Regions from separate parts of the Homo sapiens genome. Here region 1 is linked to region 2. The links come from fine-mapping of genetic effects on gene expression. Tissue or cell type: whole blood. Region 2 holds a variant in brackets; the other region holds the start of a gene. All regions are shown on one strand. Distances are from middle to middle.

Region 1 (8,093 bases), 57 kb after region 2:
TACCACAGTTAGTAATTACTACATATTTTTGTTTAGTATTTGGTTTAATCCACCAGCCATGTCCATAATGGCATGACCTTATTTGTTCACCACAGTACCTCCAGTGCTTAGAAAAATGGCTACCACATCAGAGGCACTCAACATCTGATAAAATGAAGGAAGCCTAAATTGGGTGGAAAATCAAGGGTCTCTTCTGGATGAGACTCCACTGGCTCCTCAAAAACCTAATCCAGATTGTTACACCCATATCTGAAACGAGGTACTTCCACCATCATAAACCCTCTAAGACTTGCATCTCATTTCCACTCTCATGTTAAAACAAACCCACAACATGCAGTCTTTTTTACATATGAGCTCCAAATCCATTCCTCCATAACCGCTACCAAAAAAAAAAAAAAAAAAAAAAAAAAAAAAATCAACCTTCCTGCTACCATTTTCTATTTAGCCCAAGACTCCAAAACAGAGTAATCAAAGTGAATCAAAATCATACAGTTCAGAAATCACTTGAAATGTATGGCATGCCTGTAAGTTAATGAAAACTATGAAGGAAAATATAAAGAAAACATGTAAGGAAAATTATTTAAATGGAATTTTCTTATCACAATTCCGTGGTGTATGGGGTCATATATATCACAATGTCTTTGAGGCAAATTTTTTATCTGCAACAACTCAGTTTCAAATAGAATTCATGGTATAATTGTTGTAGCTATTGTCTTTCTAAAAGAAAAACAGGAGCATGTGATAATAATCTAAAAGAAAGGATAGGAACACTGTTCTTCCCCATACTTGGGATTCTCTTCCTGTGCGCCCTTTGGAACTAAAGCGTGTTCAATCACAGGGCAGGAAAGGACCAAAACACTAAATACATTAACTCAGCGCTTTAGCCTTTTCAGTTCCTTAGGGGAGACATTTTATAGACCAAGAAAACACGGATACAAAGATATTCTCAAATACTAAAATGCTTAAAAACAAACTTTAATGCTTAAAAAAAAACTTCAGGGCACAATACACTTCCCTGGAGATGCCAAGTTAGACTACCCATTGTTAAAAAGTACAAATAGGGAAAATAAACTGCTAAAGGGCACAGGGCTTTGGGGGAGTGATAAAAATGTTCTAAAATTGATTACAGTAATGGTTGCACTGTTTTGTGACTACACTAAAAACGATCACTTCATCTGGTTAAATTGTATAGTATATGAATTAAACCTTAATAAAGCTGTGCCAGGTGCGGTGGCTCACTCCTGTAAACCCAGCACTTTGGAAAGCCGAGGCAGGCAGATCACTTGAGGTCAAGAGTTCGAGCCCACCCTGGCCAACATGGTGAAACCCTGTCTCTACTAAAAAAGACAAAAATTAGCCAGGCGTGGTGGCGCACACCTGTAATCCCAGCTACTCGGGAGGCTGACGCAGGAGAATCGCTTGAACCCAGGAGGCGGAGGCTGCAGTGAGCCGAGATTACGCCACTGCACTCCAGCGTAGGGAACAGAGTAAGACTCCTTTTCTCAAAATAAATAAATAAATAAATAAACCTTAATAGGGCTGTTAACAAGACTAAACTCAGCAAAGGGACAGCAAACTACCGTTTTGGCTTCTGGGATGAGTTTTCAGGGGAAGCACCTGGGTTAGGAGGTGGGGGGTGCGGAAATTTGACAAGTGGAAAGGAAATGTGAGACTTCTGAACAATCTAGTTTCGCTGAAACCTGCTGAAGAAATGTGACAAAAATTGAGGGTGAAAATAATGGACCTTAGAATTGAGCCCCTGGGGCCGGGCACCGTGACTCACGCCTGTAATCCTAGCACTTTGGGAGGCCGAGGCGGGAGGATCACTTGAGGTCAGGAGTTCGAGACCAGCCTGGGCAACTCGACAACACCCCGTCTCTACTAAAAATACAAAATTTAGCCGGGCATGGTAGCACGCGCCTGTAATCCCAGCTCCTCAGGAGACTGAGGCAGGAGAATCGCATGAACCCCAGAGGCCGAGGTTGCAATGAGCCGAGAGCATGCCACTGCACTCCAGCCTGGGGCGACAGAGCGAGACTCCATCTCAATCAATCAATAACAAGTGAGCCCCTGGGCAGGGCACGGTGGTTCATGCCTGTAAGCCCAGTACTCCAGAAGGCCGAGGCTGGAGGACTGCTTGAGTCCAGAAGTTCGAGACCATCCTGAGTGACATAGTGAAACCCGATTTCTACTAAAAATAAATAAAATTAGCCAAGCATGGTGGCGCACGCCTGCAACGCCAGCTACTCAGGAGGCTGAGGTGGGAGAATCACCTGAGCCAGGAGCCAGGGAGGTCGAGGCTGCAGTGAACCAAGATCGCACCACTGCACTCCAGCCTGGGCAGCCAGAGTGAGACCCTGTCTGTCTCAAAAAAGAAAAAAAAAAAAAAAAAAAGAAGAGAGACCCTGAATGGCAAATAATACAGAACTTCTTACAAGATTTTGTCTAAGAACACGACAACGGATTAAAATGTATCTACAAGTATTCAAAAGGCAGACACTGTAACCAGTGAAAGACCTGAGTGACCCACCATTTTTTAGAACTGTGTCTATGCTGGTCCCAAAACTTACTATGGGTTCTAGAAGTCAAGGCGGGCCCTTGAGCCACTAACAATTGTGGCCAACACACTGGTTAGAATGCATTATCGTTAAAGTGCAACCCTATTGAGGGGTTAACGCGCACAAAACAGAGAGTGACCCAATATAGCACAATATCCCGAAATAATGTGGAAAACAAAAGCGATTGCAAAGTTATCATAAGAGCACCGATTTTATTAAATTCCTATCCGTGCCAACCCAATCTCAAGACCCCGAGTCCATCCGGAACCCGTGCCTGAGGCTGCTCCAGCTCGCTCTCTTCCGGGCGCTGCCCCGCCCCCACTCACGTGGGACGCTGACCGCTCCACGGTCTCGCGGCTGGCAAGCCCCAGAACCCGTTCGATTCAACTATTATTAAGCGCCTGCTGTGTGCAAAGTTCTGAGCTTTCTGTTGGACTCAAAAGACTCAGTACGACCTGGGCCTGGTCTCTGCCCTCAAGAAAAGGACCGCGATCCGTTTACATCCTAGGCCTGCAGTCCTTCCAGTTCCTACCCGTGCCCTCCGCTGGTCCGAGTACCGGCCAGAAGCCTTTCTTCGGCCGACGGGCCACCGGGGAAAAGGCCCTCGCGCTTAGCACACACCCACGCTCATAGTGGGCCGCGGCCCCTAGTGTCCTAATACCTACTGGGGGTCCCTGACCTACCGGGACCTCGGCTCGGAACGGAGGCGACTCCTCGGCCCGCGTTCCCCAAGCAGCGAGGGTCCCAGACTGGAACAAGCATTATCTCCTAACCCCAGTGCACGCGGCAGGCCCGGCCCACACTTACGGCGTGCAGCGGTCGCTATACTCATTAGCGATAGTCTCGATGCCGCCGGCGCGGGCCACAGCGACGTAGCAGCTCTGGAAGCCCAGGTCTATGCCCACCACCGACATGGCGCCGGCTACTGCTCGGGCTCGGGCCCGGGTCCGGCCACCGAGACAGGACACGGACCCCCGGCGGGGCTAGCGAGTGGAAAGCAGGCCTCTTGGGCCGAGGCTACTGAGGGGCTTGCGGTGTCCACGCGAGCGCCTAAGTCCTTCCAGTGGGTACTGCAACCGAGAGCGCTGCTCAGGCCGGCTCCGGCTCAGTGGCCGCAGAGGAGGCGCCGGTAGCGGGGGCGGAGAAGATCTCGAAAGATCTCGTTGCGACGAGAGCGGAGCCGCAGCACCAGAGCTACGAAAGAACGGGATGTTCTCGCGATATCCCGGCTCAGGCGCTTTTCCCCTTGAGGCCCCGCCCCCAGTACGTCTGAATACGTCACGTCCTGGCTCGAGAACCTGGGAAAGGACTGGGTGGCTGAAAGATGGCTGGAAAGCGCATTTAGCCAACCGAGCCTGCGCATGGAACCTGCGGCGCTGCACAGCTGCATAGAGATGTGGAGCACCTCCCTTTACCGTAGAAAGTAGGCGAGCCAGCTCGAGGCACTATACTGAGGAAGCGCTGCGGCCTACTTCCGCCGTTTTTCTTAACATCAAAGAAACTTCCGGTAGTGGGGTGTCTTGCATTCCACCGTGTCGGTGCCCCAGAATGAGACGCAAGCTGATCTGCAGATCCCGCAGGGTGCCTTCTGCTCTTTTCGGGGCAGGTTGGCCGGTAGGGGAGAAGGCCGCCATTGGAACGCGGCCTTTATGTCGGGTTCTCTCAAGAGTCTAAGATCGCACCCTCACCAGCGGAGGGAAGGAGCCCACTCCCAGCCACACCGCTTTGTTTTCTTTCGCTTAGCCTTGTTGCGCCGTTCTCTAAGCCACTCATGTCCTTAGATCAGATTGAGGGGCCCGCAGGATTTAAGCCTTTAATCCACAGCACATTCCAAGCACCTACCCGGTGGTAGGCCCTAACAAGGAACACAGGCAAGTGACACGCTGCCTGGCCTGAAAGGTCCGCTCAGACCTTTACATGAAGTTAATAAATGTTAAGCTTCAGGGCCCCTCGCTTGTATGGCCTCCTGGGAGAATAGATAGTTGCTGAGTTGTGGAGAGGGGAAGCCAGCTTGAGATTAGGAAGCAAATCTATGTAAGCATTTCTAATAAATTACCCAGAGAGATCTAAGGAGAATCTGAATCTCCAAGTCTCTAGTAATGTGTTGTGATTTGTCGTTTTAATTATTTGTTTTGTGTATTTGTAGGGCCCCCCAATGGTATATAAGTTTCACCTCTGCAAAACCTGGATCATCCCCATCATGAGGGTGGCTAAACAAGTAAAGGTGACCCCAGTACAGAATGGCGAGTGCTATATGCACAGAATGGTGGAGACTAGGACAACTTCCCAGAAAAGGAAAAGGCTGTGTTCAAGTTTGGAAAACTAGCAATAGAGACCATAGTTTAAGGACTAAAAAGAAATTCTCCGTTGCTGGAGGGTACATCATGAGTTGAAGGTCTCAAGGCTAGAGTACCTGCCCTTCAGCCATTTTAAAAGTGAATGAGCAAAGAAGAAATTACATTGCCCTGGTATGCCCTTCCCTTTAAATACCTGCATTTCCTGCCACCTCCGGAGGTACTTCACTCTATAGGAGCAACCCCAAACCCGGGTTGATTACCATTAAAACTTGCAAATGGCCACACTGTTCTCACATTTTGCCTAACTAAAACCTGTTAATTCTTCAAAGACAAGTACCAGGTGCTACCTGTAAAAGGGTACTGGGAATAAAAAGAGTAGAGGCAGCCAGGAACAGCCTTTGGAAAAACGAGAGCAGGGACATATTTGTACATTGTATACCCATGTTCATAGTAGTTTATTCACGGTAGCTAAAAGGAGGAAACAATCCACATGTCCATTGACAGATGAATGAGTTTTCTAAATTTAGTGTATACGCGTAACAGTACATTATACAGCTTTGAAAAGACAAAGGAATGAAAGTCTGATAAATGCTACAGCATGAATGAACCTTGAAAATACGCTAAGTGGAAAGCCAAACAAATCAAAATTAATTTTTTTTAATTTTTAATTTTATATTCAAAATTTAATATGATTCCACTTGTATCAGGCACCTACAATAAACTACATAAAGACAGAAAAGCGGTTTCACAAGTAGAGTGAAATGGAGAGTTAAGGGATACAGAGTTTCAGTTTGGGAAGATGAGAAAGTTCTGGAGATAGATGCTGGTGGTAGTTGCATAACAATGTGCATGATCAGTGACAGATTTGTACATTTAAAAATGATGAAAATGGTAAATTTTATGTATATTTCACCACAATTTTTTAAAGTTTTTTTAAGTTAGGTTGACCTTGACCTTCCTTCCTCTGTTTTTCTCCTACCTAGGGGCAATATCAATAATACCAAGCACACTGTTGACCTTAATTATGACAGAGTCCTGTCTCCATCTGTTTATCTCAGTTGTTAATCACTGAGCAAACAACCCGAGCTGCCTAAGCTAAAGTGTCCAGTGGACCTAAAAGATCACTGTCTGTGTTACTGCCTGTTTCTGCCTTCCTTCTATTGGAAGACCTCCCTAGGTCTTAGCTAAGTTGATGAAAATTACACCCATATCTTATTATGTTCCAACTTCATACCTCAACTGCCTTGTTTGCCTTGGTACTGCTTTCAGTTTAAAATACCACCAGCCCTATCAATCTTTTTAATGATTTGTCCTTCTCAAAATAAAACATAACTACCATCAGTCACAGAGAGTACTCATCCTCCTATAAATAGTTTCCTGGATCATCAAACTTATAGCTTAAGAGATTATTCTGGGATATTTAAATAAATGAAGTCAGGAAAAGGTTATTTTAGAATCCTGAAGAATCTAACGTGGCAAGTTTCCAAGTATCACAGTTGCGAACCAACGAAGTGTCCAGAATATTTAATGTTGGAGGCACTGTGTTCGGAGAACAAATTCTTTCCATTTGGCAGAGTATCTTAGGTATTTAAGTATTTTAAAAGCAGGAAGTTGTTAAATGCCACTCTCAAATACAACGATTAAATTTAGTCCTAAGCAATCACAGAAGTGTTTGTTTTTAAATATACAGTGTTCATAGGCTGCCCAACAAAAGACAAAAGGTTCTCCATCAGCTGGGGACTCATATTTCTCCCTGACAAGTGTCCAGTGGAATCCTGCCCTACGCTCTGGAGCAGCTTCTGCAATTTTTTGCTTCACAAGGAAACTACCTGCTCAGATAATGGTGATTTTCTGACTTCCCTGATCTTACAGTGAGTGGAGCAATGCTTTTAGTCAAAGCAACAACCCTTTCTTAAACACCAAAACTCCAATAACTCAATAATAATGGTAATTACCATGTCTCTGGCATTCCTACAGCATATGCTAGCATTACGCCAGACACTGTATTGATACCAATATAATTCCTTTACTCGTCATAGCAAGCCCATCAGGTAGGTGATATTTTTCCTATTTTATAGAGACCTGATAAGGTTAAGGTACTTGTTCAAGGTCACACAATTTTCTCACAACTACACTGCTTCTCTATTTCTTCTTTTAGATGATCGCTTTCTGTCACCCAGACTGGAGTGCAGTGTCACGTTCATAGCTCACTGCAGCCTGGGCTCAAACAATCCTCCCACCTCAGCCTCCTGAGTAGCTAGGACTACAGGCATGTGCTGCCACATACAACTCATTTTTTCATTTTTTTGTAAAAATGAGGATCTCTTAGCCAGGCACAGTGGCTCATGCCTGTAATCCCAGTGTGTCCAGAATTGGTAGGTTCTTGGTCTCCCTAACTTCAAGAATGAAGCTGCAGACCCTCGCGGTGTTACATTTCTTAAAGATGGTGTGTCCAGAGTTTGTTCCTTCTGCTGTTCGGACGTGTCTGAAGTTTCTTCCTTCTGGTGGGTTCGTGTTCTACGCTGACTTCGGGAGTGAAGCTGTAGAACTTTGCAGTGAGTGTTATAGCTTTTAAAGGCAGCGCAGTCTCAAAGAGTGAGCAGCAGCAAGATCTATTGTGAAGAGCAAAAGAACAAAACTTTCACAGTGTGGAAGGGGACCTGACCAGGTTGCGCTGCTGGTTGTTGGGGAAGGTGGGGGGCACGCAGCCTGCTTTTATTCCTTTATCTGGCCCCACCCACATCCTGCTGATTGGTCCATTTTACAGAGTGCCAATTGGTCCATTTTACAGAGAGCTGACTGGTCCGTTTTGACCGAGTGCTGATTGGTGTCTTTACAAACCTTTAGCTAGACACAGAGTGCTGATTGGTGCATTTACAATCCTTTAGCTAGACACAAAAGTTCTCCAAGTACCCTACCTGATTAGCTAGACACAGAGTGCAGATTGGTGCATTTACAAACCTCCAGCTAGACACAGAGTGCTGATTGGTGCGTTTACAAACCTTTAGCTAGACATAGAGTTCTGATTGGTGCGTTTACAGTCCTTTAGCTGGACAGAAAAGTTCTCCAAGTCCCCACCAGACCCAGAAGCGCAGCCGGCTTCACCTCTCAATGGCACTCACCATGGGACTTTGTGGCATCTAGCCGGGGCACTCCAGCAGCCCAGAGGGAGTTCATCCCCCCATCAAGCCCAGCAGGCACCAGTCGGCAGCGCTGAGTGCAGGCCACTGAGCCCTCG
Region 2 (8,104 bases):
ATGAATGCCAAGGGGCAATCCTCTTTGAAGGAAGGGGGGAACCCTCATACACCAAGAAATCTTGTCTTTTTTTTTTTTTTTGAGACAGAGTCTCGCTTTGTCGCCCAGGTTGGAGTACAGTGGTGCAATCATGGCTCACTGCAACCTCTGCCTCCCAGGTTCAAGCAATTCTCATGCCTCAGCCTCCCAAGTAGCTGGGATTACAGGCACCCGCCACCACACCAGGGTAATTTTTGTATTTTTAGTAGAGACGGAGTTTCACCATGTTGGCCAGGCTGGTCTCAAACCCCTGACCTCAGGCAATCCACCTGCCTCAGCCTCCCAAAGTGCTGGGATTATAGCATGAGCCACCACACCCGGCCTTCTTGTCTCTTTTATGCCATGCATATTTGGCCTCTCCACCACAAGTTAGGCAAGGAAATAAAACTGGGCCTCAGGAGCCTCACACGGAGCCCAGGCATTCTGAAGCTCTTCCTCACTTTTCTACAGCAGATGTCCAGGATTCAGAGGCAAATCGCTGCTTTCTAGGAGTCTCTACCCACAGCTACAGAACTCCACCTTGAACAGGGGTCAGTGTGTTGTTCCTGCTCCTTGCTGAAGCTACTAATAGGATCACACGAGGCTGAGTCCATTGGACTGGCTCAAGTCAAAAGGAAAGAGGGACCTCCGTTCCTCCATCCAGGTGGGATGGATTCACGTGTCACCCCAGGGGCAGGAAGCAGCACTCCCTCCCCATCCGGGGACTATGACCATGTCACACGGGAGGGCGGTACATCTTTGGTTCTTAGGTTGACTTTCTACCTTGTTCCTCTGGAGCCTGGGCTCCTGGTGGGGTAAGGACAAGAAAGGCCAGGAGGCTATGGTAACTCGGACTACTTATGTCTGGGTCAGCTACTCTGCACTTTAAAGGGCAAGTTGCACACCTGTTGTGAGCAATACCTTTGTTCTTCCTGTCTTCAGTGCCTTCCGCATGCATCATCTCACATGCCGGACAGGCCTGGTGTTACCCCCGTTTTACAGGCGAAGGAACTGAGGCTCCTATAGGTTGTCTTTCTCAGTCAAAGCACAGTCCATGATAGGCATCTCCTGGGAACTTGATAGAAATGGACTCTTCGCCGGGCATGGTGGCTCACACCTGTAATCCCAGCCCTTTGGGAGGCCAAGGCAGGTGTATCACGAGGTCAGGAATTCAAGACCAGCCTGGCCAAGATGGTGAAACCCCATCCCTACTAAAACTACAAAAATTAGCCGGGCGTGGTGGCAGGCACCTGTAATCCCAGCTACTTGGTAGCCTGAGGCAGGAGAATCGCTTGAACCCGGGCAGCAGAGGTTGCAGTGAGCTGAGCTCGCGCCACTGCACTCCAGCCTGGGTGACAGAGTGAGACTCCATCAAAAAAAAAAAAGAAAGAAAGAAAAGAAAAAAAATGGACTCTTCAGCCCCACTCTGACCTGCTGAATCAGAATCTGCATTTTAGCAAGATCCCCAGGTATACTGAGAAGCACTGGGCTGGGATCTACCTGAGGTCTGGGAGCAGTCCAAGATTCTTCTTTTTAACAGTGATGTCATACTTTGGGTGGTAAGGACCTAAGAGATTAGTAGCAAAAGGCCTACTTTCTTGCTTGAGCCCCTGCTTGCTAGCTTGAGGACTCTGTTAAACCATACTTATTTTGCTTTTAGCTACCCAGAAGGAGAGGAGGTGGCCGTCTGTGTTCTCCAAACTTCTGGGACTCCTCAAGGAGTGAAGTCTGATCTACGCACGGAACCAACCACCACGGCAAAGGAAGAGCGATGGCGCCCCCATGTGGCAACACAAGCACTGCGATTTCACACAAGACCAAATCAGAATTGGCCGGAGGGGAACGTCAGATTCTTAGGGAGTGTTACTCCAACTAATGCTACACTCAGGGCGACTTCTTGGAAGGCAAAAGCCCCATAGTCTAGCCATACAACTTTCCAGAAAAGTAGCACTCTTCAAAACAGCTGGCATTAAAATTCTTGGCTCTGCCATCCACCCGTTCTGTGAGACTCTTTCCTCATCCCCAAAAATGGAAGGTCTGATGACTTCAAAAAGAGTTTTACCGTTTTTCCCCTCATTGAAAATAATAGAAAACAGTAAAATACTGCATTTCTGCCTTCAAGTATTCACTGAGCGCCTTCTCCATTCCCTGCTTCTTGCCGGGCTGCACGGAGGCAGCTGTAACCCAGGCAGAGTCCCTCCTTCAGTTGTGGGATGTAGAAGACAAGGACAGGACCAGTCACAGAGGAAAGACCTTCACTCATGCTGCGGCCTCCTTTACCACTGCATGGGCCCTTTCAACTTTCCTAACCCAGACAGCTCACCGGCTCCTCATGGCAGCCTTACACGGGTCCTACAAAGCTCCCCACTGGCACTCCTGAAAGGTACCCTATAACTGGAACCATCCTTTTGTGGAATATATACTGACCCAGCTCATCCTTAGAAATCCTTTGCTGGGATTTACATCCTGGAAGCTGGGCCACTGACTGGTCTTCCAAGACCATCTGTTTCCAGCTTTCTCTTCTGCAAGCATTAGCTGAGTCTAATTTAAATAATAGATATTTTAAAATACATTTTAAAGTTCATGTAGAAAAAAAAATGGGAGACCTCCAGTATGTGGTGAGTAAAGGTCTGCTTACTTGTGATAAAGTACTTGCAGTGCTTTCTCTCCCTCAACTGATCCAGGACTCCAAATCTAATAGTCCATCTCGCCCTTGAAGGATGTAAACCCAGACACACTAGTGAACAGGCCCGATAAAAACACAGCTTTCTGTAGTCTTTTCTGTGTTGTGTTTGAAGCTGGCGAATGCCACTTACGAAGGGAGAGTAAAGAGTCTCTACTCACCCTGTCCTAATGACGTGTGCTGAAACTGGAGGAATAAGGTCAGGATTAGCCTGGCACTTGCCCATGGATATTGAGCAAATCTGGAAAGCATTCTGTATTTTTTTAAATACTCTGAGGTCTTTCCTTCCCTGATCCTCCAGAAATTTACACCCTCCTTTATCTTTCCAGATGTGTTGCTTGTACCTCAACTTGGCCATTTTCCCTATTTGCCTCCTAGACTGATGCTTAAGAAGTCACCTCTTTAGTTTCTACACTTCTTGCAATATCTGCTCAAAATAGCAGTTCACAAAAACAGTGGCATTCCAGGTTAGAGGGTCATGGCCCAGGGCTGCCCCAGCCAAAGCCAAGTACATCCAAGGAATGTACTGGCAACTCCAAGATTCCCAATGGTCTCAAGTAAGTGGTGGGAACCATCCCCATTTACACACAGGACACTGCCCAACCTCCTTTCTCGCAGACTGATGCCTCATTTCAGAGGCCAAGCTTCTTTTTTTTTTTTTTTTTTTGCTTTTTTTTTTTTATTTTTTTTTTTTATTTTTTTTTTTTTAATTTATTTTTTTATTGATAATTCTTGGGTGTTTCTCACAGAGGGGGATTTGGCAGGGTCATGGGACAATAGTGGAGGGAAGGTCAGCAGATAAACAAGTGAACAAAGGTCTCTGGTTTTCCTAGGCAGAGGACCCTGCGGCCTTCCGCAGTGTTTGTGTCCCTGATTACTTGAGATTAGGGATTGGTGATGACTCTTAACGAGCATGCTGCCTTCAAGCATCTGTTTAACAAAGCACATCTTGCACCGCCCTTAATCCATTTAACCCTGAGTGGACACAGCACATGTTTCAGAGAGCACAGGGTTGGGGGTAAGGTCACAGATCAACAGGATCCCAAGGCAGAGGAATTTTTCTTAGTGCAGAACAAAATGAAAAGTCTCCCATGTCTGCTTCTTTCTACACAGACACGGCAACCATCCGATTTCTCAATCTTTTCCCCACCTTTCCCGCCTTTCTATTCCACAAAGCCGCCATTGTCATCCTGGCCCGTTCTCAATGAGCTGTTGGGCACACCTCCCAGACGGGGTGGTGGCCGGGCAGAGGGGCTCCTCACTTCCCAGTAGGGGCGGCCGGGCAGAGGCGCCCCTCACCTCCCGGACAGGGCGGCTGGCTGGGCGGGGGGGCTGACCCCCCCACCTCCCTCCCGGACGGGGCGGCTGGCCGGGCAGAGGGGCTCCTCACTTCCCAGTAGGGGCGGCCGGGCAGAGGCGCCCCTCACCTCCCGGACAGGGCGGCTGGCTGGGCGGGGGGGCTGACCCCCCCACCTCCCTCCCGGACGGGGCGGCTGGCCGGGCAGAGGGGCTCCTCACTTCCCAGTAGGGGCGGCCGGGCAGAGGCGCCCCTCACCTCCCGGACAGGGCAGCTGGCTGGGCGGGGGGGCTGACCCCCCCCACCTCCCTCCCGGACGGGGCGGCTGGCCGGGCGGGGGGCCGACCCCCCCACCTCCCTCCCGGACGGGGCGGCTGAGGCCAAGCTTCTTGACCAAGTACTCAGCACCTGCAGCCTCACCTCAAGCCCCTTCACCCCACCCAGCTCCCACCCTACTGAAGCATCTAACCCTGCTGGCCACTGCCACATCTCACATCTCTAGCTCCCTTCCTCCCAACATGCTTTATGCATCATAACTCCTCTCTGGCAGTTCCTTCTTTCAAAGCTTTTACTTCCTCTTCCTAACACATCTCAACACAAGCCTTCATCCCGTCAATGAGGAACACGACTCCAGCCCCAAAAGCTTCCATCCACACCCACCTGGAGCTTCGATGTCTCAACCCCACCCAGGAAAACTTCTCAATCTAAACTCCCACCACATCTCCAATGACTCAAGACTAGAAGCTCCACATGTACAAT[C/T]ATATCCCGTATTCTAGGTTTGAAACCTTGGAGCCATTCTTCTTAAAACACACTTCTAGTTTTCTTAACATTATAAAATTCCTAAATGCTTTTATTAGTGACAGGAGGCGGTGGGGGGTAGGGGCTTGTCTCCCCATGTTGCCCAGGCTGGTCTTGAACTCCTGGACCCAAGAGATCCTCCCACTTTGGCTGGGATTACAGGCATGAGCCACCATGCCTGGCCCTAAATGCTTATTGTAGCAAACTCTGAAAACAGAAACAAGCAAAAATAAACAATCACCCACAATCCCACCCTAAAAACCACTTCATCTGGGAAAATCCTTCTGGCTTTTTTATTGCAAACCCATTTAATGTTCTTTCAAAACATGAGAGGCTATGTAGTTTTATAACCTACATTGTGTGTGTAAAAATGTAGGCCAGGCATGGTGGCTCACACCTGTAATCCTGGCACTTTGGGAGGCCAAGGTGGGCAGATCACAAGGTCAGGAGTTCGAGACCAGCCTGGCCAATACAGTGAAACCCTGTCTCTACTAAAAATACAAAAATTAGCAGTGCGTGGTGGCGCACGCCTCCAGTCCGTTACTCGGGAGGCTGAGGCAGAAGAATCACTTGAACCCGGGAGGCAGAGGTTGCAGTAAACCAAGATCCCGCCACTGCACTGCAGCCTGGGTGACAAAGCGAGACTCCATCTCAAAAAAAAAAAAAAAAAATACACACCTTTCTGTTAAAGCCACTTAAAATTATTGAAATAGATCAAGTGTACATGAGTACACTATCAAGTCAGATCAAAAAACAAGCATCACCAAGCCTCACATCATGTTGTCACTACTCCACAAAGAGTAACTACTATCCCAACTTCTAAAGCATGGTTTTCAGCTGGAACCATGCTTACATCTTCCCTCTTCCTGCAGGTACCAAAACCAGCAATTTTCCCCTTCATTTGGCTGTCCCCTCAAAGGTGGACTAAGTCCCACTACCTCCAACAACCCCCAGGCCCCCTGTGCCCCTGCAAAGCAGCTCCCACTGCCCCACAACAGAACCCTGATCTCTCAGGCCCCCACCTTTTAAGGAGACAGGGTATCACTTTATCACCCAGGCTGGAGTTGCAATAGCACAATCTCAGTTCACTGCAGCTTTGACCACCTGGGCTCAAGTGATCCTCCTGCCTCAGCCCCCCAAGTATCTGGAATCACAGGTGCACACCACCACACCCAGCTATCTCAGCTCTTTCTACCACATCTAACAATTCCCCTACAGAAACCACTTACATGCTCAGGAGGAAACCAAACCTACTAGACACACGTTTCTCAGACACGTGGCTACAATAGGCCCTGGGTAGGCCCTGGCAGGTAAGCTGCTCCTACAGCCAGAGGACTAGGACTGTGCAAGGGGCATGACCCAGGGAACAAGACCCCTGACCCCTCCTCGTCTAGACCCATGCCTTATCCAGTTAAGGTCTTTTTCACTGGCTTAGTGCCCTTTAAACACCCATCACCACCACATACATACACCAACACACATTCCACGCAGCCACACCACACATCCAGTGGCGCCAACTATTCTAGCACACTCTGGACCGCGCTGTTCTTTGGCCAGGTGTAAGTCCTAGCACTTACCTTTATGCCATAACCCCCGCCTTCTGCTAACAAAACCCTCAAAGTAAGGCCCAGTCACAGGAGCAAGACAAGGATTCCTAACACCAAAGGAACTGGGCCAAGACTCAACTGGAGAGTTTGAGTACAGAAAAATTAGGCAACATTTTCTCACAAAGTAGGCAGTGTGCTTCAGCTGTCACTCTTCAGACTGGAAGTCTTCAACGGATGTTAAGTGAAATTTAGCTCAGAGGGTTCCTACTCCTAGAGAACATTTTTATTGAAAACACACCCCCCGCCCCCACCCCACACACACATACACACAGACACACACACATACACACACACCCCCACACACACACCCAGCAGCCTTCATTATGGAATTAAGGAAACCATTCAAGTTTAAGACAGGTTTATTTTATTAGTTTTTCCTAAACTTGTCTCATGTTTACTGAATGATTTTCTTAGTGTAAGAACGTGACCTGGAGCTTTAACAAATCAGTTTGGATAACGCAACCTGGATAAATGCTTGTCTGTACACAAGCCATCAATTACCACTCTCTGTCCTGGCCTCCATGAAAATCCAATTGGTCTTAAAGCCTGTCTAAGCAGAGAGCAAGCAGACCACATCATCGTGTTTCAACTTGAAATTCACCCCCATCCCAGCACCCACACCCTTCCCCACACACACACACACACACACCAAAAAAAAAAAAAAAAAAAAAAAAAAAAAAAAAAAAAATTTTTTTTTTTTTAAGAAGAAATGGCCATTACGGTCTGGGCCAGTTGTAAAGGGTTGGCTTAATCCTGCAGCCAGCACTTTTAAAATAGCTACTGGCTTCACAGCAGGCCAGCTGGAACTCTTGAAGCATGACAGGTAGAGAACAGAGGATGTGCTAAGAACCTGGCCTTGTTGTGGTGCCTCGAGGCCTCCATGCATGCTTACACACCAACATAAGTATACTTTCCCCTTCCTCCTCCTAAGCAATTGTTCTCCATTGCACTTTAGAGCCTGTAACACTCAAACTTTTCAATGTTATCTAGAGATGGACAAACGCTTAATTCTAACTATGCAAGATAGCATCTTATTTCTAACAACATAGGCCAAAAGTAACAGAGAGGCACTCTGTTATACAGAATATCAATTTTTACAAAGATTCAAAACATTACCAACAAGCCCTGTAACAGTTTCTTAAAGCAGGTACCAACTCTGGCCTCAAACACAGGCTTCCCTTGGAGTTTCCAAAATGCCTCACTCCTGTCAACACTGCCCCAAAAAGCAGTCAGAGGAATGCTTTGGTATACCTGACATTGGCCACACAGTTAAGAATGAGGTGTTGTTATAACATCAGGCACCACACTTCTTTAACACTAATTTCAGACTCATCCAGTACAATCCAGTGTATCTTAGTTTTTTTTGCATCATCTGTCAGCTGCTTAACACGTACAAATTGGCAGGTTCATGACAGATATTAACACTTAACACACAAGTGATTGTGAATGAGCTAAAAAGAACTTTTAACTCTTGTTCTAGGAGTTCAAGCTATACCTCAAAATTATACAGAACATCTCCCACCTGAATAAACAGGCCAGGATACAAATCTTTACACCAAAATTAACAAGGATTTAATTCCTCAGTTAAATTTACCATGGCTATATCCAACAGTATATCTACCCAATTCTAATCTTCTGAAAATTATTTAGACCTTGATGCTTGGGGTATTCATGAACATACTTTCAGGAAGAGCCTCCAGG

Evidence for each region. PIP is the estimated chance that this variant, and not a neighbour inherited with it, causes the effect.
Region 1: it holds the start of HSPA4, and the variant in region 2 is fine-mapped to the expression of HSPA4 in whole blood (INTERVAL, PIP above 0.99). The same link has a PIP of 0.9 or more in neutrophils.

Annotation. Positions count from the first base shown.
Region 1 is chr5:133,047,630-133,055,722 of GRCh38, reverse strand. HSPA4 (heat shock protein family A (Hsp70) member 4) reads right to left here and starts at 3,710. Exons shown (of 19, transcript NM_002154.4): 1 at 3,366-3,710. The coding sequence starts at 3,472. RefSeq lists enhancers at 1,534-2,496, 3,735-3,914, 4,105-4,154, 4,225-4,274, 3,461-4,423.
Region 2 is chr5:133,105,090-133,113,193 of GRCh38, reverse strand. HSPA4 (heat shock protein family A (Hsp70) member 4) reads right to left here. Exons shown (of 19, transcript NM_002154.4): 19 at 6,745-8,104. LOC105379178 (a long non-coding RNA gene) reads left to right here. Exons shown (of 3, transcript XR_948792.2): 3 at 1,679-2,126. Among named protein-coding and RNA genes, the nearest start is that of HSPA4, 57 kb to the right of the region's middle. RefSeq lists an enhancer at 4,628-4,677. The variant C/T (reference allele first, on the strand shown) is at 4,758.